7 linked regions of the Homo sapiens genome follow. The protein of the gene in region 1 purifies or fractionates together with the protein of each later gene. This does not show direct contact. Each region holds a gene or a part of one and is shown in the gene's direction. Other genes may lie near its edges. The genes, in order: PCMT1, PDPR, SHKBP1, DERA, RAB3IP, KLHL24 and KCTD3.

Region 1 (3,500 bases):
AGAATGAGCCTGGTTTCTAAACATTCCTGCAGATTTACCAGGATGAAGGTAAAACTTCTGCATTAGAAAAAGTGCTCTTAGAAAAATAATGCCTTGTTATACTTCTGCCTTTTCTCATCAGAGTCTTATCTGGTCAATGGCTATCCAGAGTATTAACTGGGGACCCACTAATATATGTTGGAGTAAAGGTTGATCATTGCTTAGATCATCACATCAGTTTGATTTGAGAAATATCGTGCCTGGAGGACAGATTGGAATATTCTGATCTAGTTAAATTGGGAGTTGTGGATCCACCTTGGACTAGAATCCATGTAACTTGCTATAAATGTATAATCAGCAGACTTACTAGAATGTAAGCTCCAGGGAGTTGGAAATTTTGTCTGCTCTTTTTTATCATGATGGTATCCTAAACATCTAAAACAATGCCTGGCACATAATAAGGACTCATATTTTCTCAGATGTTTTGCTCATTTTGTAGAGGTTAAGTCCTCATTAATGGATATCAGTGATTTTTTTTAAGGTTAGAAATGCCATTTAATAAATGACTCATTCTCTATACTTGACATGTTTATAGTTTTAGAGGATGTATTCATTTTAAAAAATCATTTGGTTTCTGAGTTGTTTTTCATAAAATGGCATTAATGTTTTTCACACATTTACCATGTGTGAAAGTACTTTGTGTTTTAAGCACTAGAGCCTGTGTTCTAAGTGCTACCCCATTTTTATGATGGGGTTTATGCCTTTTTCCTCCCCATTTTGTACTGAGGAACCTGATTCATACAAGGAATGATAGGCCGGGTGTGGTGGCTCACGCCTGTAATCCCAGCACTTTGGGAGGCCGAGGCAGGTGGATCACCTGAGGTCTGGAGTTCGAGACCAGCCTGGCCAACATGGTGAAACCCCGTCTCCACTAAAAATACAAAAATTAGCTGGGTGTGGTGGCACACGCCTGTAATCCCAGCTATTTGGGAGGCTGAGGCAGGAGAATTGCTTGAGCCCGGGAGACAGAGGTTGCAGTGAGCTGAGATCACGCCACTGTACTCCAGCCTGGCCAACAAAGCGAGACTTTATCTCAAAAAAAAAAGAAGGAACGGTTAACTTGCCAAGGTATGTATGTATGTAAGTGATGACACTTAGACAAGAACCCAGATAGTTTGACTTCAAAGCCTTTATGTGTTAATTTTTTAAATTTTTATATTTTTTCTTGAAACATTTATACTTAATATTTTAATTTACAAATAAATATGCAAAGAAGGGATTTTTGTTGTTGTTGCTTTTTGTTTGTTTTCTGAGACAGGGTCTCAGTCTGTCATCCAGGCTGGAGTGCAGTGGCACGATCTCAACTCACTGCAGCCTCTGCCTCCCAGGCTCAAGTGATCCTCACACCACATCAGCCTCCTAAGTAGCTGGGACTTAGGAGGCACATGCTACCACACCTGGCTAGTTTTTGTATTCTTTTGTAGAGATGGGGTTTTGCCATGTTGCTCAGGCTGGTCTCAAACTCCTGGGCTCAAGCAGTCTACCTGCCTCTGCCTCCCAAAGTGCTGGGATTATAGGTGTGAGCCACTGTATATATTTTCATGTTTTCTACTAAAAGCAGTAGAAACAAGTGTAGAAATTCCTTCCCATCAGGCGGGAGGCAGGGTGTGTGGTGGCTCAGTCCTGTAATCCCAGCACTCTGGGAGGCCAAGGCGGGCAGATCACGAGGTCAGGAATTTGAGACCAGCCTGACCAACGTGGTGAAACCCTGTCTCTACTAAAAATACAAAAAAATTAGCTGGGCATGGTGGCGGGGGCCTGTAGTCCCAGCTACTCAGGAGGCTGAGGCAGGAGAATTGCTTGAACCTGGGAGGCAGAGGTTGCAGTGAGCTGAGATCGTGCCACTGTACTCCAGCCTGGGTGACAGAGCGAGACTCTCTCTCAAAAAAAAAAAAAAAGAAATTCCTCCCTGTCAAATTCTTTATGTAACATTTTAATATTTAAAGTTATACTTTAGATGGAATTTAAATAAAAAATTATTGTACTACTATTAAATATTGGTAATTTTCTTCAAAGTTCTAGATTTAATCTAAGAAAGATATAATTTTTCTTAGTATTACAAGTTTTATTCAATGAGAGTGATAGTTGAGAAAGTTGTATATATGGTAAATAATTTATGATAAACTGAGTGTTTAGCAATCTATAGAAGCCTTAAGCTATTTTTGTTTTCTCTTTGTAGAATATGACTTTCGATAAGGAAAAACTTCAATAATACTTTAGAAAAACAAATTTAGCCCAATGAGCTACTGAATTGTTTTCTCTTTTCCAGGTTGGATGTACTGGAAAAGTCATAGGAATTGATCACATTAAAGAGCTAGTAGATGACTCAGTAAATAATGTCAGGAAGGACGATCCAACACTTCTGTCTTCAGGGAGAGTACAGCTTGTTGGTAAGTATCAGAAAACTTTAAAAATTTCTTCAGAGGATTTTTATTTTCAGAAGATCCAATGCAAGCTAAATAATACTCAGAGGTAATTATTGTATTTTTTTTTACAATCACTTTTAAGTACTAAAAAATAAAAACGATTATTTTTGCTCACCTAGTGTGTATTTTGCAGCCATCTCTTTGTGAGTTTAATTTTGTATTTTCCTATTAACCTCTGAGATTGAATTTTTTGTAATGTGTCTGACCATTAGGATTTTGTCTTTTGTGAAGTACCTGTTCAGATATTGGATTGCTTGTATTTTTGACTTACAGGGCTTCTAGCCCTTTGTCTATATATATAAATACATTTCTTCTCCCATCTGAGGTGTGCCTTTTCATCTTATTGGTACCCTTTTGATAATAGAAATTCTTAATTTTAATGTAGTCAGACTTACCAATTTTTTTCAGTGCTTTCTGTGTCCTTTTTAAGGATACTCTGAGACCATGAAGATATGTCTCTTATTATTTCTTAGAACCTTTATCATTTTTAGCTTTTCATGTTTAGGTTTTTGATCTTCCTGATGTTGGTTTTTGTGTATGTGTGAGGTAAAGGTGCAGTTATATGTTTTTGTGTATGAATATCCAGTTGTATTCCCCAGACACACTCAGTTTTGTTTAAAAGATAAAATATTGGCCAGGAGCGGTGGCTCACACCTGTAATCCCAGCACTTTGGGAGGCTGAGGTGGGCAGATCATGAGGTCAAGAGTTTGAGACCAGCCTGACCAACATGGTGAAACTCCGTCTCTACTAAAAATACAAAAATAAGCTGGGCGTGGTGGCGCACGCCTGTAGTCCTAGCTACTCGGGAGGCTGAGGCAGGAGAATCGCTTGAACCCGAGAGGTGGAGGTTGCAGTAAGCTGAGATCGCACCACTGAACTACAGTCTGGCGACAGAGCTAGAGTCCGTCTCAAAAAAACAAATAAAATAAAATAAAGGCCCGGGCAGCTCTAGTAGCCACAGCCATCCCCTAGAGGGATCTGGCTGAGGAGGAAGTGGAGGTGTTGCTTGCCTTGGCCTTTGCCCTGATCCTGTG
Region 2 (3,500 bases), on another chromosome or scaffold:
AACATGGCGAAACCTCGTCTCTACTAAAAATACAAAAATTAGCTGGGTGTGGCGGCAGCCACCTATAGTACCAGCTACTCGGGAGGCTGAGGCAGGAGATTCACTTGAACCCGGGAGTGGAGATGGCAGTGAGCCGAGATCGCGCCACTTCACTCTAGCCTGGGCAAAAGAGCAAAACTCTGTCTCAAAAATAAATAAGTAAATAAAGTTGTCTTGATCATAGTGGTCTGTTTGGTAGATGCCTGTTCAGCTACAGTGGTGCAGTTCATAGAAACATACTGTGCTAGGATAAAGAACTGCAGTACCACTGAAGCTGGTTCTTTGCTACGTCTTGCTTTGGATTTCATTTTACAGTTTTAAAAGCAAACAGTGTAGTCTCATTTTTGTTGGACTTTAAACTTAACAGCGTATGTTCAGACAGGGATTGAATATTTGCTTTCAGTTTGGAAAACCTTCTGTTCACTGATCTGATAACGTACATGTTTCTGAAACCAAGAAAAGAGCAGCTTGAGAGCCTGAATGCTGTGGGACATGAGCAGGCGAGCCCTGCCTTCCTGGCTCCCCCGCCGTCATCCGATGTGTGCACACGTCTCGAGTAACGTGTGAGAGCTGGGCCTCACAGCTTGGGCCAGTACGTGAGGGAGTAACAGTGGTTGGGAAATTGGAGCAAAAGAACAAAGCCAGAATCAGATGAAGACCATGGAGGGTTGGTGGGCTGTTTTAGAAATGATGATGAGATTGGCCATTTACCAAATGGTGAGAGAGCTTCTATAAATTATTATTTAAGAATTGCTGTAAGCTAGAATCACCACACAAGACATTTTAGAGAGGTGAAAAGACATGGATCCTGTTGTCATGGAGCTTAAGTCCAGGCTGGGGTGACCCCAGCTCATCACTCCTGGGCTGTGCCCTGAGCGTGTCAAGGATGAGACATCCTGGGAGTTTTATACGCCTCCTCTCTTGTCCATGTTAATAGTGTGAGCCATCAGCGCTTCCAGACATGCTCCATGCTTAATTCTGAAGGTCTGCTGCTTATGAACTTTCTGTCTCTTCCTATAGTACGCCCTGCATGTATACAATGAAGTGATGAGTGTTGGCCAGAAATACGGAATCCGGAATGCTGGGTATTACGCTCTTCGCAGTCTCCGAATTGAGAAGTTTTTTGCCTTCTGGGGTCAGGATATAAATAACCTCACCACGCCCCTGGAATGTGGACGAGAGTCTCGGGTGAAATTAGAGAAGGTACTGTGTTTACCCAGACTCCACTTTCACTCAGCATCCCGAGTAGTGAATCTGCACTAGACTAGGAAGAAGAACTGATGTGACAGGAAAAGGGGGAAAAGATTGAGGCCTTGATGTTAGCATCAGGTAAATGAGGACAAGAGTGCCCTGAGAATGAAAACTTTATAGGATAAAATATCTTCAAATGAAAACATAATAATGGTGGCTCACGCCTGAATCCCAGCACTTTGGGAGGCTGAGGCGGGTGGATCACCTGAGGTCAGGAGTTCGAGACCAGCCTGGCCAACATGGCAAAACCCGTCTCTACTAAAAATACAAAAAGTAGGCCGGGCACGGTGGCTCACACCTGTAATCCCAACACTTTGGGAGGCCAAGGCGGGCGGATCACAAGTTCAGGAGATCGAGATCATCCTAGCTAACACAGTGAAACCCCGTCTCTACTAAAAATACAAAAAATTAGCCGGGTGTGGTTGCGGGCGCCTATAGTCAGGAGAATGGCGTGAACCCAGGAGGCAGAGGTTGCAGTGAGCCGAGATCACGCCACTGCACTCCAGCCTGGGCGACAGAGCGAGACTCCGTCTCAAAAAAAAAAAAATTTACAAAAAGTAGCTGGGCGTGGTGGCCAGCACCTGTAGTTCCAGCTACTCGGGAGGCTGAGGCAGGAGAATCACTTGAACCTAACAGGCAGAGGTTGCAGTGAGCCAAAATCGCACCACTGCACTCCAGCCTGTGTGACAGGGCAAGACTCCGTCTCAGAAAAAAGAAAACATAGTAAATAGATGACACTTGGTCAGGTGCGGTGGCTCACAACTGTAATCCTAGCACTTTGGGAGGCCAAGGCAGGAGGATCACTTGAGCTCAGCCTGGGCAATACAGCAAGACCTTGTCTCTGAATTACAATTGAAAAACAAACAAAAAAACCCACTTATTTCTAGTGTTCTGCTGTCTAAAAGACTGAGTGCTTTCTGGGAAGCTATTCTGAGTTAATTATGGTGATGCATTAACATGCCACGAATATTTGTACAAACTAGTCGTCCTATAGTCAGCTGCCTAATTTTTGTGGTTTTTTTCTTTTGTTTTTGATTTTGAGGTGGGGTCTCATTCTGTCACCCAGGTTGGAGTGCAGTGGCGCGATGTTGGCTCACTGCAATGCCCTCTCATGCTCAAGTGATCCTCCCACTTCAGCCTCCCAAGTGGCTGGGACCACAGATGCACAACCATGCCCAGCTAATTTTTTTGTATTTTGGTAAAGACAGAGTTTCACCACATTGGCCAGGGTGGTCTCGAACTCCTGAGCTCAGGTGATCCGCCCTCCTCGGCCTCCCAGAGTGCTGGGATTACAGGCGTGAGACAGCACACCCGGCCTAATTTTTTTGGTTTTTTTGTTTTGGGCGGATCACCTGAGTTCACAAGTTCGAGACCAGCCCGGCCAACATGGTGAAACCCCGTATCTGCTAAAAATATAAAAATTAGCTGGGCATGGTGGCAGGCACCTGTAATCCCAGCTACTCGGTAGGCTGAGGCAGGAGAATTGCCTGAACCTGGGAGGCAGAGGTTGCAGTGAGCCGAGATCATACCATTGTACTCCCACCTGGGTGACAGAGCAAGGCTCCATCTCCAAAAAAAAAAAAGGTAATAACCCATTTTGGAAAATATAAAGAAGGAAATTAAAATCACCCATATTTTGTCTATTTAATGGTAGTAACTATTTTTTTTTTCTTTCTTGAGACGGAGTTTCGTTCTTGTTGTCCAGGCTGGAGTGCAGTGGCGCGATCTCAGCTCACTGCAATCTCTGCCTCCTGGCTTCAAGCGATTCTCCTGCCTCAGTCTCCCGAGTAGCTGTAAGCCATCCAGCTAATTTTGTATTTTTTGTCTTTACCAAAATACAAAAAATTAGGTGGGTGTGGTGGCGCATCTGTGGGCCCAGCTACTTGGGAGGCTGAAGTGGGAGAATCACTTGAGCATGAGAAGGCATTTTTGTATTTTTTCTTTTTTTAGTAGAGATGGGGTTTCTCCAGGTTGGTCAGGCTGGTCTCGAACTCCTGACCTCAGGAGATCCCCCCGCCTTAGCCTCCCAAAGTGCTGGGATTACAGGCGTGAGCCACCGTGCCTGGCCATAATCACCGTTAATAGTTTATTCTAGTCTTATTTGTTGTACATATGTGTATATATGTGTGTATGCATTGAATATAGATGTGCATGGTCTTGTTGGGATTATATAAAAAAGTCTTTTTTTTTTTTTTTTTGAGACAGAGTTT
Region 3 (2,513 bases), on another chromosome or scaffold:
TGACCTGGCGCAGTGCCAGCCCAGTGCAGGCAGGGCCAGGTTGAAGGCACAGGGGGTGGGGTCAGGGTGGGATGGGGGGCCCAGGCGGAGGGGGAGGGGTGGGATGGGGGCCCAGGGGGAGAGGTCGGGGTGGGATGGGGGGACCAGGGGGAGGGGTTGGGGTGGGATAGGGGGACCAGGGGCAGGGGTCGGGATGGGATGGAGGAGACCCAGGGAGCTGTAGGAGCCTTGCTTCAGCTGGGAAAGGGGCCTCGGAGGATGTTCTGGATGAAGGGACTCTGAGCAGAGACCTAGAGGACAAGTAGGAAGGAGCAGAAGAAAGAAGGCAGGGGAAGGGGGCCCCAGCCTGAGGGAACTGTATGTGCAGAGGCTGAGAAGGGCCAAATAGGGTCACATGGGAAGGACACGTGGGCTCCTGGGCTGGAGCACAGAACAGGAGGTGAGGATGGGGTGCAGATGCGGGCGGGCCTTGTCAGGCTGTGGAAGGGCTGAGGCTTTGTCCTGTGCGGGGAGCCGTGGCCACTGCATGGGGGATGAAAGGAGGCTTGATGGGAGGCCAGGAGCCCAGGGAGGAGGCCAGGAGGCTGATAGGAGGTGGGGGAGCAGCTGGGACGGGCCTCAGGTCTTCCCTGCAGTGGGAGCAGGGAAGAGCAGAAGCTCTGGGAGACTCCCTGGGTGTTTGGGGCTGCGGTGTCCAAGAGCTGCTGGACCCTTGGGACTGGAACTCAAAAGCAGGCTAGGGATGGATAAAGATTGGGATGGCCCCTGGAGAGGCAGGAACTGCAGCCACAGTGGTGGGGACTGGGACGAGGAAGGGTGAGAAAGCGAGGGTGACCACCTCCCCCACTGCACCCCCCAGGGTGTGCTCCGTGCGCTCCGTGGACGGCTCACCCACGACAGCCTTCACAGTGCTGGAGTGCGAGGGCTCCCGGCGGCTCGGCTCTCGGCCCCGGCGCTACCTGCTCACTGGCCAGGCCAACGGCAGCTTGGCCATGTGGGACCTAACCACCGCCATGGACGGCCTCGGCCAGGCCCCTGGTACTCCCTGCCCCACCCCAATCCCGTCCCAAGCCCCACAGCCTCACCCAGAACCACTCTCCACTGCCAACTGCTTGATCTCTCTCCCAGGCCCTTGCCCTCTGACCCCTTTTCCTTTGACCCCCTCTCTGCTCCCCATCCCTTCCTGCCCTTGTTTTTCAACCCCTGTCTCAGCCTCTGGCCCCCATGCATTGATCTCTGCTTCCTCTCTCCTGTCCTGACCCTCGGTGCTTGCACTGCAATGCAACCCAGGCCCTTGCCCTATGACCCCTGTCTTGCCCCCTGACCCTGCTTCCGTGCCCCCCAGCAGGTGGCCTGACGGAGCAAGAGCTGATGGAACAGCTGGAACACTGTGAGCTGGCCCCGCCGGCTCCTTCAGCTCCCTCATGGGGCTGTCTCCCCAGCCCCTCACCCCGCATCTCCCTCACCAGGTAGCCACAACTCCACTGCCCCTTCTGTGCAATGAGGGGAGAGGGGACAGCATGGTGTTCCCGGGGACAGAGTGGCCCAGCTGCCCCGTGATGACGTGCACTTACTGTCCTTACTTCCTCAGCCTCCACTCAGCCTCCAGCAACACCTCCTTGTCTGGCCACCGTGGGAGCCCAAGCCCCCCGCAGGCTGAGGCCCGGCGCCGTGGTGGGGGCAGCTTTGTGGAACGCTGCCAGGAACTGGTGCGGAGTGGGCCAGACCTCCGACGGCCACCCACACCAGCCCCGTGGCCCTCCAGCGGTCTCGGCACTCCCCTCACACCTCCCAAGATGAAGCTCAATGAAACTTCCTTTTGAACAACGCAGCTGCCATGATGCCTTGGGATGCCCTGGTCCTGGGGGACTCAGGTGCCTCCCTGATTCCTGTGGGAACCCCGGGTTCAGGGCCAGGGCCTCCTTGGAATAAATGGTTATTGTTACTAGGTCCCCACCTTCCCTCTTTTCTGGAAGCCAAAGTCACCCTCCCCAATAAAGTCCTCACTGCCAACATCTTGCTTATTCTTAGCAGGTTTGGGACTCCCCAGGAAAGGGGTGGGGAAGATGTGGGACCCAACCCGATATATGCAAAATCAGGAACATCTACCTCTCTTGTTTAAGCAAAGGGAGGCCAGGCATGGTGGCTCACATCTATAATCCTGGCACTTTGGGAGGCCAGTTTGCTTGTGCTCAGAAGTTTCAGACTAGCCTGGGCAACATAACAAAACCCCATCTCTACAAAAAAATACAAAAATTAAGCAGGCATGGTGGTGCATGCCTGTGGTCCCAGCTTCTTGGGAGGCTGAGGTGGGAGGATCGCTTGAGCCTAGGAGGCCAAGGCTACAGTGAGCCATGATCACACCACTGCACTCCAGCCTGAGTGACAGAGTGAGATCCTGTCTCAAAAACAAAACAAAACAAAAAAGGTGTTGCAGGGGAGGAATGTGTTGGCTTTTACTCTGCCTTCAGGCATGGCTGGATCCGGGGCTTCAAACACTAATTCAGAATATC
Region 4 (4,246 bases), on another chromosome or scaffold:
ATTCATTGTGGTCACAATGGCCTTGGCTGATGCTGTGCTGTGAAATTGTATACGTTTAACCAGGGAAAACCATGGTCCAGTTGTGAGTTTCAGGCCAGCTCCAGGCTTTCAGGGCCTGCTTTTCTCTTTTTCAAGGTTAATATAAAAAAGAAAAGTGCTATAGTATGTATGAGTAAGATCTACACACATCCGAAACATTCAACAGTGGCTGTGTGTGGACAAGGCTGAAAGCTCAATGTAGAGGAGTATACAAATATTACTATTCCTATTTAAAACAGCTCAGTAATTACTGTGTGAACTTGACAATAACATTAACAGCTTCCATTTTTTAAGTATCTACTGTATGCCATGTTATGTACTAGGTGCCTTGCATACATTCAACAGCTTTGCAAGGTGAACATATTTTGATCATCTCCACTTTACAGGTAAGTAGACAGACTATTATTTCCAGAACTGCCAAGTTACATTTATTAAATGGAAGAGCTGGTATATTAATGGGTTCAGCTCATTTTGAGCTCACTGTATTTCCCCTATACCAGGATGCCTTTCTATTCAGAACTTTGATGTCTAAAGTTACAGCAATGGAGATAAAATACATTATTGGCAGGATTGTTCAGAGACTCAAATGCTATCATACATCTATATATGATGTATGAAAGCACCTAGCACAATAACTGGCTCATGGTAGACAAATCATAACTAACTGTACTGTTTTCATAGCAGAGGTGCCTCTAAACGTGAGTACAGATAAGTTAACTATATTGAGATTGTGGAGTGACTCGACGATTTTAACCTCTTGGTCACAGAGAAATCAGGCTGAAGCATTTTACCTTTATAGAATCATAGTATTTTGAAGAACCAAGAAATTGTCAAGGTCTTCTTTTACAGATGAGAAAAATGAAGCTCGGAAAAGCAGTTAATTTGCCCAGGGTCACACATTTAATTATTGCCCGAGCTTGGCTAAGAAACCAGGTCTTCTGACTCCTAAGCCCTTGCCTTCTTCAGGCCACATAGCTGCTTCTTTTCATGATGTGTAGATTAGAAAAGTCAGTGTGCCCCGGGGCCCTTGATTGCACCTTGGTTTCCCTAACAAGGATATGGGATCCCTGCTGACATTTCAGACCTTAAGTTGCAGAGCTCTGCACTTGGATCTTCTTCCTTCTTGTTATATAATCTTACAGTTAAAAGTTTCTAGGAATATTTTTATTACGTGCAATTGGCAACTTCAGTATTTTTTAAAGGGTGTTGGTAGCATTATTTCCGGGAGCTACTTAGCGCTCCGGTTCGGTACCTCGTGGAGAAGACGGGGGAGGGGAGCAGCGAGATTTCCTTGCGGAGCAATATTCCTAGGGTACAGACCTCGTAGCCCGGGCCCGCGACTCCGCCCCGGGAGCGGGCAGGGGCGGGGCGAGCGCTCCAGCTGGCGGGAAGGAGGAAGGGCCGGGCGCGGCGCAGAGGCGGGCGCCTACCAGCCGGCAGCTCCGGAGCTGCCCGCGCCATGTCCGCGCACAATCGGGGCACCGAGCTCGGTAAGGGGCCCGCGGGGCTCCCCATCCCCTCTCCCTCGCGTTCAGCGCCGCCGGGACTAGCGCGGGGCCTGCTGCCGCCCAGTGCCCTGGCTGTGGGTCCCCGAGGGGTTTTCGCTGGGGCGGGAAGCAGTGGCGTCTGGTCAGCCCTCACCCCAAGTAAAGGCCGAACCCGGCACGTTCGCGCCGCTTGTCTTTGCACCTAAGCTTTTACTCTTGTATGCGGAAGGAGTAGGAAAGGGTTAGATTATTATCTTCCTGCCTTTTCGTTCACTCTAGCTCGCTGGTTGGAAAACCCAACAACCCAAAAAACAAAACCCAAAACAAACAACCCCCAAGCAGGTAAAAACAGATAAAAACCTTCTTTCTCCTCCTTTTAATAGAATACTTGTGTAATTTAATGCAGTATTTCCGTAGATAATTTTAACCGTAACCTTGAAGTGGCCGTGCTCGTGGAAAAGTTGTCAGCCGTCTGTGCTCAAAATGTAACACTGCAGATTCATGGGATTTTAGAGTTACAAAGATTTGTTAAAGTACCTGTATTATTTCCCAGTTTTCATCTTTTTTTATATTGTTCAAATACTGGCAAGAAACCTTAGTTCAGATTTCTTTTTTTTTTTTTTTTATTGATCATTCTTGGGTGTTTCTCGCAGAGGGGGATTTGGCAGGGTCATAGGACAGTAGTGGAGGGAAGGTCAGCTGATAAACAAGTGAACAAAGGTCTCTGGTTTTCCTAGGCAGAGGACCCTGCGGCCTTCCGCAGTGTTTGTGTCCCTGGGTACTTAAGATTAGGGAGTGGTGATGACTCTTAACGAGCATGCTGCCTTCAAGCATCTGTTTAACAAAGCACATCTTGCACCGCCCTTAATCCATTTAACCCTGAGTGGACACAGCACATGTTTCAGAGAGCACAGGGTTGGGGATAAGGTCACAGATCAACAGGATCCCAAGGCAGAAGAGAATTTTTCTTCAGATTTCTTAACATGTGAAAAATTTATAATTCAAACAGCAAAACCATGATCAAGAGAAGGTTTAAGCGTCTCGTTTAAGTATTATAGCTTGGATATCTGTGTATCCAGGATCTTTAACTTCTTACCTGTGTGACTTCGGACAAATTAATAACTTTGCGCTTAAGTTTCTTCATCTGTAAAATGGTTATTTTAGTGGTAGTTACCTTATAAGGCCGTTAGGAGATTAAATAGGATACATGTAAAGTAGTTTGGTATATTGTGGACACCTAGTAAGTCTTCAGTATAGATAGTATTAGTATATGGAGTTATGGTTTTAGGGGCTAATTTTGAGAAAATTGGCTGTAAATTATATGTAACACATACAGGTAGGTCCTTTTCGCCCTCCTTAAAAGTGACTGGTACTTAAACAGTCTGCACTTCCAAGAGGTGTTCTGGATTTTTTGTCGAATGGTAAGAGAGTAAATCTATCATTTTAAAGACAGTTGATTTACTAACCTGGTTGATTTTGTTTTAGTCACTGTCCTCTAGCTGATTATGTTTTAAACTCTAGTCCTATCTCTGGAACGTGGTCTTTAGTAATAACGGCATTATTTCTTAGATTGGAATATCCTTGAAGGTGGTGGATATGGGGCAGGTTTGGGGTGGTGTCTTACCTGGGTATTCCCAGGAATATGACCATGTGACTATGCATACATCAAGGATGTGCCCTAAATTTCCCAAAACTTAGACATTTTAAATTTTTCTTTCAAAAAACATAATTGAACCATTTTTAAATTTATTTATTTGCAGTAATTAGAATCAATCACTTCCATTCATTTGTTGAAAAGTAATAGACATAAATAATTGCCAGGTAGAACAATAGTAAATGTGGTTTTTATGCAGCTATCGAAATGATCATAGCTTTGTATTTATTATCTTATTTGTTAAAATCAGATTTTTTTCCTTCACGGGTATTAATCCTTAATCCAAACAGGTTTAAACTGAAATGCTAAAATAAGTTATTTGAATTAGGTACTAGGGAAAAAAATCTTTCAGTATTAATTTATGCAGTATATTAACTGATGATTTTTAAAATAGTTTTCTAATTGAAAGTCTTTTTAATAAACATCGTAACTAATTTCTAAAATAAATTAACATTTTTGCTTCCCTTTTCTTATTACAAAAGGAATTCATGGTTATTGTAAAAATTCTAGAAAATACAGTTAGCACAAAAATGTTGTAATATTATTACTAGTCCAATCACTGTTATTTATGATTTGGTGTATGTACTTCTAGTTCATGGACTTAAAAAAACATTGAGTTCCTTTGAGACTAAACCTGACCCTCATGATTAAAAAGTCTTTAAGGAAAACATTGGCATTTGGATGTATGAAAGATGTTTTCCAAATAGGGAATGTACCCTCTAGCTTTCATATTAGAGGATGGGGCCCAGCATTCTGAGTTTTAACAAATCCTGTGGGTAGTACTGAAGCATACCCAAGTTTGAGAACCAATGGCTTAATGATCTCCAAGGTACTATCAAGTTTTGTACCTAGACTATTATGCCCTATATAGTCTATTAAAATGTACAGATATTCTTCTATTTTATTAGATGCCACTTAACTATTGCCTAAAATGCAGGTGTCACGTGGGTAGTGATCTTTCTTTTGTTCACTGATGTGTCCCAAGTACCTAGAATAGTGTTTGGTACACAGAAGGCCCTCAAAAATGTCTTGAGGCTGGGCATGGTGGCTCATGCCTATAGTCCTG
Region 5 (2,420 bases), on another chromosome or scaffold:
CAAGAGAATGATTCTCTACCGAAACTCTGCAAAATGGGGATATCAAGAGAGTTGGAAAATGTAAGACGTAAAGACCATAATCAGGAAAATACGCATCATATTTGTTATTCACTGAGAGGGAGGAATTTCCACTTAAATCCTATTTCCAGCAGCTGGATTGTGCTCTCAGTGGAGTGCTCTGGATTCTGATTAATAGAGATTTTCTAGTCCTCCCAGCAACTTCCTTCTCAATTCTCTTCACTTTCCGCAGATCTCGGCACCAGGGTTGCATCTTGTGGGCTCCATTGTGTTTTCACACAATGTGCTATTTGTCCTTCACAGTGTTTTGGTTTATTTTTCTGTTTGTCCATCTTGTTTTTGAACAATTGCCAGCATTTAAAAATGAGGAAATCTAAAATCTGCATTTCAAGCTGCTCTTTTTTAAAATGTGCCGTTTCGACAACACTGAGCCCACAGTCTTGAATGACAACACTTGGGTGGAGCTGAGTGACTCCACCTGTCGGGTGGCTACACCCTTGCTCAGGGTATGCACTCCATGGTTTGCTCTATGGCCCACCATCCTGGATTGTCTCCCTGACACCAAGGCTAAGGGACCCACTTTACTCACTTATCTGCTGGGCCTTGGAAGTATTTCAGTTCGGAACCCCAATTCTAACCTTAGCTTCTCAGGCCATTAAATGAAATCTCATTTCTATGATGCTTCCTGTCACATCACTGTGCTGCTGAGAACATGAAGTCTGTGGGTGAATTGGTGGACGGGATCCAGAATCATTACTTGGCAGTGGATTATAGTGTGATGACTCATTTCCGGTGGTCTCCAGGAGACTTGGCTGGGAGCTTCTCTTGGAGTCTAGGGTTAGCCAGAGGCTACATGTTTTAGGCATCTTAATTCATATTTTATCTAAAGGCATATAAATCCTTAAAAAAAATCATTTGACTTCATCCTTGCTCCCTACATCCAGCCAGTAACCATTGCTTTGTTTTACATCGCGTGCTTCAGGCTTTACTACAGCCTACCTGGATTTTGCAGTAGCTTCTTAAACTGCTTAAACTTTGGATATTGCCCCAGCCAACACATTCTGCCACAGAGATCTCTCTGAGTTAAATGGGATTGTATCATGCCCCACACCCAAGCAGATAGAAACTGTCAATAGATACACTTAGAATGAATATGCATGGAATCAAATTACATTCAGAATCTACCACTATAGGTAGTGAATACAACAGGATAGCAGAGGCTGGGAAGGGTAATGGGGGTTGGGGGGTGGGAGGATAAAGGGGTTGGGTAATGGGTGTAAAAATCTATAGAAGGAATATGATCTGTTGTTTGGTAGCACAATAGGGTAAATACAGTTAATAATTTATTGTATATTTCACAATAAAGGAGTGGATTTGGAATGTTCTCAACACAAATGATAAATGTTTGAGGTGATGGATACCCCAATTACCCTGATTTGATCATTATACGTTGTATGTTTGTATCAAAATATCATATGTACCCCATAAATATGTACAACTATTATGTATCCATAAAAATTGGAAATAAACTACCACCATCTTTCTTCAGCCTATTTTCCTATCTCCTCTCGCACCATACTAGGCACACAATCTCTGTACCTGTGCTGTCTTCCAAGCCATTGCTCATGTTTTAAGAAATATACTTATTGTTTAATATATCCTGTACCACTGTAGGATGACTGTAGTTAACAATAATGTGTAGTTTCAAATAGCTAATAGCTGGAAGGAAGTTGTTGAATGTTTCCAACATAAAGAAATGATAAGTGTTTGAGATGATGGATATGCTAATTACCCTGATCTGATCACTACACATTATATGTATGGAAATATCATTGTGTACCCCATGAATATGGGCAATTATTATTTGTTAATTAAAAAAATAAAAAAAAGACCCACCCACTGTTTAAGTGTATCTACATCCTAGCTCTTTGTGGCACCTTTCCAGATCCTCCCAGATTAAATTACTGTCCTTTCTCTGTTCTCTTGAGACATTTTCCCAGCTATCAGTCTGCCCTGAGTTACAGTCACTTGTGTTTTTCTCATGCCCTAGATTTCAGTTTATGGAGGGCAGGGACTATTATTTATTCATTTTTTTATTTCCTGCACCCAGCAGATAGCTTCACACAATTGTTGAAAATTCATTTCTTTAAACAACTTGATGACTTGTCCTTATAGATCTGACAGCCAGTGTGACCGTCAAAAGAAGCTCCTAAACCTTTTCTTTTCTAAGCTAAACTTAGTTTGCTCATTTTCAAGTAACAGTATATGTGTGTAAAATATGTTTGGAATTATGTCACCTACAATTCTAATAATGAAACAATAGACAAATTTGGAAAATGGGTATTCTACAAGGCAATGAGCCTGGACTATAGAAAAAAGTCAAAATCATGAAGAGCACAAAT
Region 6 (3,500 bases), on another chromosome or scaffold:
GGTGTGGTGATACACACCTGTGGTTTCAGCTACTTGGGAGGCTGAGGTGAGAGGATTACTTGAACCTCGGAGGTTGAGGCTGTAGTGAGCTGTGATCATGCCACTGCACTCCAGCCTGAGCAACAGAATGAGACCCATCTCCAAAAAAAGAAAAAGAGAGAGAGAGAAACGTGGATGTTAAGCTGCTGGAGAGCTTTGTTAGGTTGAAAGTTCCCTATATAAACCATGGATTTTTTGCATATAAGCCATTTAATAAATATCTTACTGATTGGTTCACCTGTCATATAAAGATACTAATTTGCCCTACCTTTCTCTTATTTGTGAAAAGAAAATGTACATAAAAGCTCTGTGAACTTTAAAGTTCATTTTGTGTCAAGTACTTTTCTAGGTATTGTACGGACTAAAAGAAAGGCCTGACCAGCACTCTCATAGTCTAGTAATTCTTTCCTAATATTTTAGTTTCACAGCTCTAATACTTTATAATAATCAAATATTTCATTACCCATAAGTGTGAATATTTAAGCTAAATTGTACCATTCTCAGTGTGAGCAGTATTACCCCCAAGGGGGCAAAGATTGTTTCTTAGAAGATGAAAAAAAATGTACCCTTTCTTGTGTAAAGAACAGATATACATACATTAAGGTAAATAGATACACAATTTCTCTGTGGTATTACAATTTTATTGAGGGAAGACTATTAGGAAGAAAATACCTAAAAAGGCTCCGTGGATTGTGATGGTGGTAGGGGATGATGATTTTTTAAAAGGTTCAGAAACTCTGAGCTAAATATATTGCAATTATATTTATTTAGCAAGGGCATTTTAAAGAGAAGAGATCCCTTAATTCTTTAGCCAACTACTTCAAAATTCAGACTTTTGATAATTAAGATTTTTCCATGTATTTTACATATAGGTATATGTTGTCGGTGGCTATGATGGGCAAAACAGACTTAGCAGCGTAGAATGTTATGATTCCTTTTCAAATCGATGGACTGAAGTTGCTCCCCTTAAGGAAGCCGTGAGTTCTCCTGCAGTGACTAGCTGTGTAGGCAAACTGTTTGTGATTGGTGGAGGACCTGATGATAATACTTGTTCTGATAAGGTAAGCCATGCACTTTTAAAGAAATTACCAATATTAAGTACAAGAAGGGAAATACAGAAGGCTTATCAAGTAGGTAGCCAGGTCACATAGTGTGAGGGGTCTTTTAAAAATTTTCTGGTACTATATGCTTTTGGAGAAAAACATTGAATTCTGGGTTGCTAAAGTGAGACTCTAGTATATCTAACAATTTGCTCTAACAAATGTGATCCAATCTTTTTGAAATGAGACTATCTGTGTAGAAGTTTTCTACTAAATAAATTGTTCTGAGCCTTTGCTGTCATCTACAAAATCTAAAAACTATTTATACAAAACACAGTTGAGAAGTGAATTAGCAAAGGGTAAGACATAGTAACTAAATATGCTGCTTCCAACTGGGTCATTTTCTACATACTTTTGAAGTATTTTTCAGAAAAAAGGAAAGGAAACCTCCTTAGTGTAAATAGAGGATGGCTCAAAGTTGTTCCGGTTCAGTAAACTTCTGGGACGAAAGAATATGTGCTATCCTGACATCTCAGGAAATGTTTATTCTGGAAAAAAGCATCTAATGCCTAGCTGGTTTAGCACTGTTAACTGAATTTTGTCAGTCTATTAATTCTTTTTCTAAATTCAGTTTAAAATAATGTGATCAAATGTTACTTATTTAGAATTTGTTATTTCAGAATTTGTGATAATTCAGAGCATACTGATTGAATTGAGGTTTACTTGTTTTCTTTTGAAGAAAGGACTCCCTAAAAGCATTAAGAAGTTATATTCAGATGTGAGGCATAGTTATCCTACATAACACAATTGTGAAAAGATTTAGACTGTTAATTTTAGTGGACAAACCTGGTGGCCATTCATTCTAGAAACAATCTGTGTGTTTGGTACTCTATTCTGCTTGATAGTAATAAATTTGCATTTTATTTGAGAATGTTCGTAATTCAGACATTTCACTATCAGGCTAACCTCTCTTAATTCTCTGAATTAATAGGATTTTATTTTAAATAATGTTTGTAGGTATTGGTAGATTCTTTATTAAGTACATTTCCATTTTTGTTTAGAAATTTTAATTATATATTTTTATATGTTATTAGGTTCAATCTTATGATCCAGAAACCAATTCTTGGCTACTTCGTGCAGCTATCCCAATTGCCAAAAGGTGTATAACAGCTGTATCCCTAAACAACCTGATCTATGTTGCCGGTGGACTGACCAAGGCAATATACTGTTACGATCCAGTTGAAGATTACTGGATGCACGTACAGAATACATTCAGCCGTCAGGTAATAACATAAAGCAGTACAAAAGAAAAATAAATCTAAGAGGGACCAAGTACATAATCATTATTAATACACTGGAATTTCAATTTTAAAATATTTCAGGCTGGGCGTGGTGGCTCACGCCTGTAATCCCAGCACTTTGGGAGGCCGAGGTGGATAGATCACTTGAGGTCAGGAGTTCAAGACCAGCCTGGCTAATATGGTGAAACCCCGTCTCTACTAAAAAATTATGGCCAGGCGTGGTGGTTCATGCCTGTAATCCCAGCACTTTGGGAGGCTGAGGCAGGCCAATCACCTGAGGTCGGGAGTTCGAGACCAGCCTGACCAACATGGAGAAACCCCGTCTCTGCTAAAAATACAAAATTAGCTGGGCGTGGTGGCGCATTGCCTGTAATCCCAGCTACTAGGGAGGCTGCGGCAGGAGAATTGCTTGAACCCGGGAGGTGGAGGTCGCGGTGAGCCGAGATCGAGCCATTGCACTCCAGCCTGGACAGCAAGAGCGAAACTCCGTCTCAAAAATAAATAAATAAATAAAAATAAAATAAAATAAAATAAAACAAAATAAAATAAAAAATTAGCTGGGTTTGGTGGCACACGCCTGTAATCCCAGCTGCTCAGGAGGTTGAGGCGGGAGAATCACTTGAATCTGGGAGGCAGAGGTTGCAGTGAGCCGAGATCATGCCACTTGCACTCCAGCCTGGGCAACAGAGTGAGACTCCGTCTCAAAAAAGTAAATAAATAAGTAAAATAAAATATTTCATGTTTGCTTGAATTATTTTATATATTTTTCAAAACTCCACATAAAGCATATGGCAACCTGTTTTGAACTCCTTCCAAGGGGTCATTTTATTGAAATAACTTCCTTTTTACCATCCCATGGAGAAGTATCTGTTACACTTGGGCTGTTCTTTTTTTTTTCTCTTGACTTTTTTCACAATCCTACTCCAGTATTTATCCCCTCTCTTTCATATTTCAGAAGAGAGGAATGTTCCCAAACTTGTTGTTTCTTTGGTTAGAGGCTGGGAAATCTGTTATTTCTGTTGTAAAGGAAATGGCTGTGCTCACCTTTCTTTCATCCATGTATTCTAACCGGAGCCCTACTCCCTACCCACACTGCCACCTCCCAAAAGGCCTTTTCCCC
Region 7 (3,500 bases), on another chromosome or scaffold:
AACTCTTATGTGGATTCCAGATTCTTTTTTTTCCAGGTATGTCTTATAATTCTTTAGTGTATATTTTAATACATTTATTTACCAAAATATAATAATGTTTGTCAGTTAAATTTTTTTTAATAAAAAAGGTTAACTCTTAAAATTATATATTTTTGAACTTGGAAGATAGATAACTTACTTTTAGTGGTCTTTAACATTTGGTAAAGAATTAGCACATTTGTTTATACTCAGATTTTAAAAACTAACTTTAGATTATTAATGACTTCCAGTTTGCTGAGTGGGAGAATTTCAACACTTCGAGATGAAACTGGTGCTGTGAGTATAATAATAATTGATACATATTCCTAAATTAATGCTTATAGTGCTTGGTCCTAACATATAGTTACTCTAAGAATATAGGAGAACTGATATTTTAATAATCACTGAATGAAAGTGGCATAATTTTATTTCTTGTCATATGTAGTTTTTTATAATCAGAGAAGATCCCTAAGTAGGGAATACTATATATGGCAATTTAAGTATTCATGATTAGAGAGATTGTAGGATATGAGCTTACATTGGCATTAGAAGAAATTTTTTTAGATCAATAATTGAAACTTTAACAGTAAGTGGATAAATGTAAATATTCTAATATTTTTATATTAGAATATAAGAGGTTAAATTAGTAAACTCCTACAGTTTTTTATTTTATTTTGGAGAATAACCTTGCGAATTTGTTTATACAGCATTGGTACAGTGAGGGAAGGAAAGAATTGTAAAGTTTCAGTGCAAAAAAATTGGTTTATCCATTTGGAGGCAACAAAGTGACCAATGGTATTTATTTGCTGTGGTGAGATTTGCAGATGAAATAAGGCAACAAATGCAGATATGTCCATGTGAAATTATAAAAAGTTATCAATAATAAGATCTCCACAAATCTGTGATGTCTCTTCGATTTTTGATGTGCTCTAATGAAAACAAAAGAAAATTTATAAAGCTTAGAAGAATCTCATTGATTGTATATATATAGTTGATCATAGTAGGAAGAGTTTTATTACTGGCTGCCATTTCCCTTTCTAATTGATTTACATAAGCTTTAAAAGATGTTCCGTTTTTATGGCCAGATCTTTTGTAAATGATTCAAAATAGGTGTTGGTATAAATTTCCATAAAAAGTTATCAATTATGGGCTGGGTGGGGTGGCTTATGCCTGTAATTCCAGCACTTTAGGAGGTCGAGGCAAGTGGATTACCTGAGGTCAGAAGTTCAAGACCAGCATGGCCAACATGGTGAAACCCCCTCTCTACTAAAAACAGAAAAATTAACCCGGCATAGTGGCAGGTGCCTCTAATCCCAGCTACTCAGGAGGCTGAGGCAGGAGAATTGCTTGAACTTAGGAGGTGGAGGTTGCAGTGAGCCCAGATCGTGCCACTGCACTCCAGCCTAGATGAGAGAGCAGGATGCTGTCTCAAAACAAACAAACAAACAAAAGTTACCAATTATGTATTTTACATTTTTAAGCAATTTGTTTTCCTCTTATGTATTCTGTGGTGCTTTAGTTTAAAAAAAAAAAATTGTCATTACCTTTCCCCAGCTCTGAAGGAAATTGAGATTAGTAAAAGTATTATGAGAATAGTATTCTTTTCCACTTTTGACAGCAGTGTGCAGTATTTACTTTTCTCAAGTACCCCTGTGTGCATTATTAAAGTACATTGTAGTTTTAATGATTGAACAGTATAAGAAAGTATTATTTATTCATGTTTTCGAAGTATTAATTGAATTCTAGACTGTTTCAGATAAAAATGTTTCCTCAGGTGTCACTTTTACCAAAGGTATCAATACAAGTGATTTTATTAGACAAGATTTTTTCTATGTATTAAAATATCAGTTTAATAATAACTATTCAGAGGAAGAAAAAGACACCATCTCAAGAAAAAGACACCATCTCATGAAATGCACACAGACTACATTCCAATTTTAGAAACATTAAAGTTTAAGAGTGGAAACAAGGAAATGTAGTATTTAAGTAATTAAGACTTCATTCCCTATTAGTGTTACAGATATTAAAGTTAAAAGATTAATTTGTAATTTGAAAATAAAACTGTTCTCTTTTTTACAGATATTTATTGATAGAGATCCAGCAGCATTTGCACCCATTTTAAATTTTCTTCGGACAAAAGAACTAGACTTAAGGTAAGAAATGCACTCTTTTTAAAGTAAATTCTTACTGATAAATATGTGTTTTTAATATGTTTTATGAAATAAAAGGTTTTTTTTGTTTGTTTTTTTTTTTCCTTGAGTTGCAGTCTTGCTCTGTTGCCCAGGCTGGAGTGCAGGAGTGCAGTGGCATGATCTCTGCTCACTGCAACCTCCGCCTTTCAGGTTCAAACAATTCTCCTGCCTCAGCCTCCCGAGTAGCTGGGACTGTAGGCACATGCCACCATGCCCGGCTGATTTTTTGTATTTTAGTAGAGAAGGGGTTTCACTGTGTTGCCCAGGCTGATTGCAAACGCCTGAGCTCAGGCAGTCTCCCCGCCTTAGCCTCCCAAAGTGCAGGGATTACAGGAATGAGCCACTACGCCCAGCCAGAAAAGGTTTTTTTTTTTTTACTAAGACTTTGATTAAAAGTTTCCTCACACTGAAACTGGATGTGGTGGTACACGCCTATAATCCCAGCTACTCTAGAGAAGAAGCTGAGGCAGGAGGATCCCTTGAGGCCGGGAGTTTGAGGCTGCAGTGAGTTATGATCATGCCTCTGGCCAGTACTGCTGTACTGTTAACACAAATAGTTTCGAAATAGAATAAGAAAGTTTGAAGCTTTTTTTTTTTGAGACTGAGTCTTACTCTGTCACCCAGACTCACTGCAATCTCCACCTCCCGGGTTCACGCCATTCTCCTGCCTTAGCCTCCCAAGTAGCTGGGACTACAGGCACCCGCCACCACACCCGGCTAATTTTTTTGTATTTTTAGTAGAGATGGGGTTTCACCGTTTTAGTCATGATGGTCTCCATCTCCTCACCTCGTAATCCACCCGCCTTGGCCTCCCAAAGTGCTGGGATTACAGGTGTGAGCCACCGCCCCCAGACACAAAGTTTTAAGCATTTTTAATGTTAAACTAGTCATAACCAGTTTCACAAATAAAAACAATTTAACATAGTAATTGTATATATTTATCAAGGCTGGGGAATATTTTTAAAATAAGGACAAATTACAACTGAAACCTAAGATGAATTATTAGTATTATAAGTTCTGAATCTTCCATTTTTTAAAAATTTTATTTCATGTTACTTAACTTTACTACTATGAAGTAGCATCATTTCATCTGGATAACATAGCCCTTCCCAAGGCTAGTCTTTTTTTTTTTTCTATTTTATTTGTTCAACAAATATTTATTACATAACTATTTTATACAAGCACTATGCTAGGCACTGTGAGGTATACAAACATAGATCAGAAATAGATCATGCTCGCAGGGAATTTATAGTGTAATTGGGGAGATTAAGATAGATATGTATAGAAATA

What was found.
Region 2: the proteins of PCMT1 (region 1) and PDPR purify together in Homo sapiens (affinity purification with mass spectrometry; 3 studies listed by BioGRID and IntAct, with this or other methods). This does not show direct contact.
Region 3: the proteins of PCMT1 (region 1) and SHKBP1 purify together in Homo sapiens (affinity purification with mass spectrometry; 3 studies listed by BioGRID and IntAct, with this or other methods). This does not show direct contact.
Region 4: the proteins of PCMT1 (region 1) and DERA purify together in Homo sapiens (affinity purification with mass spectrometry; 3 studies listed by BioGRID and IntAct, with this or other methods). This does not show direct contact.
Region 5: the proteins of PCMT1 (region 1) and RAB3IP purify together in Homo sapiens (affinity purification with mass spectrometry; 3 studies listed by BioGRID and IntAct, with this or other methods). This does not show direct contact.
Region 6: the proteins of PCMT1 (region 1) and KLHL24 purify together in Homo sapiens (affinity purification with mass spectrometry; 3 studies listed by BioGRID and IntAct, with this or other methods). This does not show direct contact.
Region 7: the proteins of PCMT1 (region 1) and KCTD3 purify together in Homo sapiens (affinity purification with mass spectrometry; 3 studies listed by BioGRID and IntAct, with this or other methods). This does not show direct contact.

What each region holds. Positions count from the first base shown.
Region 1 is NC_000006.12:149,791,241-149,794,740, forward strand, and holds part of PCMT1 (protein-L-isoaspartate(D-aspartate) O-methyltransferase), read left to right. Parts: intron 1-2,308; coding exon 2,309-2,429; intron 2,430-3,500. UniProt on the Homo sapiens protein: Initiates the repair of damaged proteins by catalyzing methyl esterification of L-isoaspartyl and D-aspartyl residues produced by spontaneous isomerization and racemization of L-aspartyl and L-asparaginyl residues in aging peptides and proteins.
Region 2 is NC_000016.10:70,152,332-70,155,831, forward strand, and holds part of PDPR (pyruvate dehydrogenase phosphatase regulatory subunit, mitochondrial isoform 1 precursor), read left to right. Parts: intron 1-1,059; coding exon 1,060-1,242; intron 1,243-3,500. UniProt on the Homo sapiens protein: Decreases the sensitivity of PDP1 to magnesium ions, and this inhibition is reversed by the polyamine spermine.
Region 3 is NC_000019.10:40,589,385-40,591,897, forward strand, and holds the end of SHKBP1 (SH3KBP1-binding protein 1), read left to right. Parts: intron 1-859; coding exon 860-1,038; intron 1,039-1,345; coding exon 1,346-1,469; intron 1,470-1,591; coding exon 1,592-1,823; 3' UTR 1,824-2,013; downstream 2,014-2,513.
Region 4 is NC_000012.12:15,909,886-15,914,131, forward strand, and holds the start of DERA (deoxyribose-phosphate aldolase), read left to right. Parts: upstream 1-1,446; 5' UTR 1,447-1,498; coding exon 1,499-1,529; exon of another isoform or gene 1,530-4,246. UniProt on the Homo sapiens protein: Catalyzes a reversible aldol reaction between acetaldehyde and D-glyceraldehyde 3-phosphate to generate 2-deoxy-D-ribose 5-phosphate. Participates in stress granule (SG) assembly.
Region 5 is NC_000012.12:69,821,280-69,823,699, forward strand, and holds the end of RAB3IP (rab-3A-interacting protein isoform alpha 1), read left to right. Parts: 3' UTR 1-1,920; downstream 1,921-2,420. UniProt on the Homo sapiens protein: Guanine nucleotide exchange factor (GEF) which may activate RAB8A and RAB8B. Promotes the exchange of GDP to GTP, converting inactive GDP-bound Rab proteins into their active GTP-bound form.
Region 6 is NC_000003.12:183,670,123-183,673,622, forward strand, and holds part of KLHL24 (kelch-like protein 24), read left to right. Parts: intron 1-911; coding exon 912-1,100; intron 1,101-2,173; coding exon 2,174-2,362; intron 2,363-3,500. UniProt on the Homo sapiens protein: Necessary to maintain the balance between intermediate filament stability and degradation, a process that is essential for skin integrity.
Region 7 is NC_000001.11:215,573,804-215,577,303, forward strand, and holds part of KCTD3 (BTB/POZ domain-containing protein KCTD3), read left to right. Parts: coding exon 1-36; intron 37-263; exon of another isoform or gene 264-269; coding exon 270-315; intron 316-2,097; coding exon 2,098-2,171; intron 2,172-3,500. UniProt on the Homo sapiens protein: Accessory subunit of potassium/sodium hyperpolarization-activated cyclic nucleotide-gated channel 3 (HCN3) up-regulating its cell-surface expression and current density without affecting its voltage dependence and kinetics.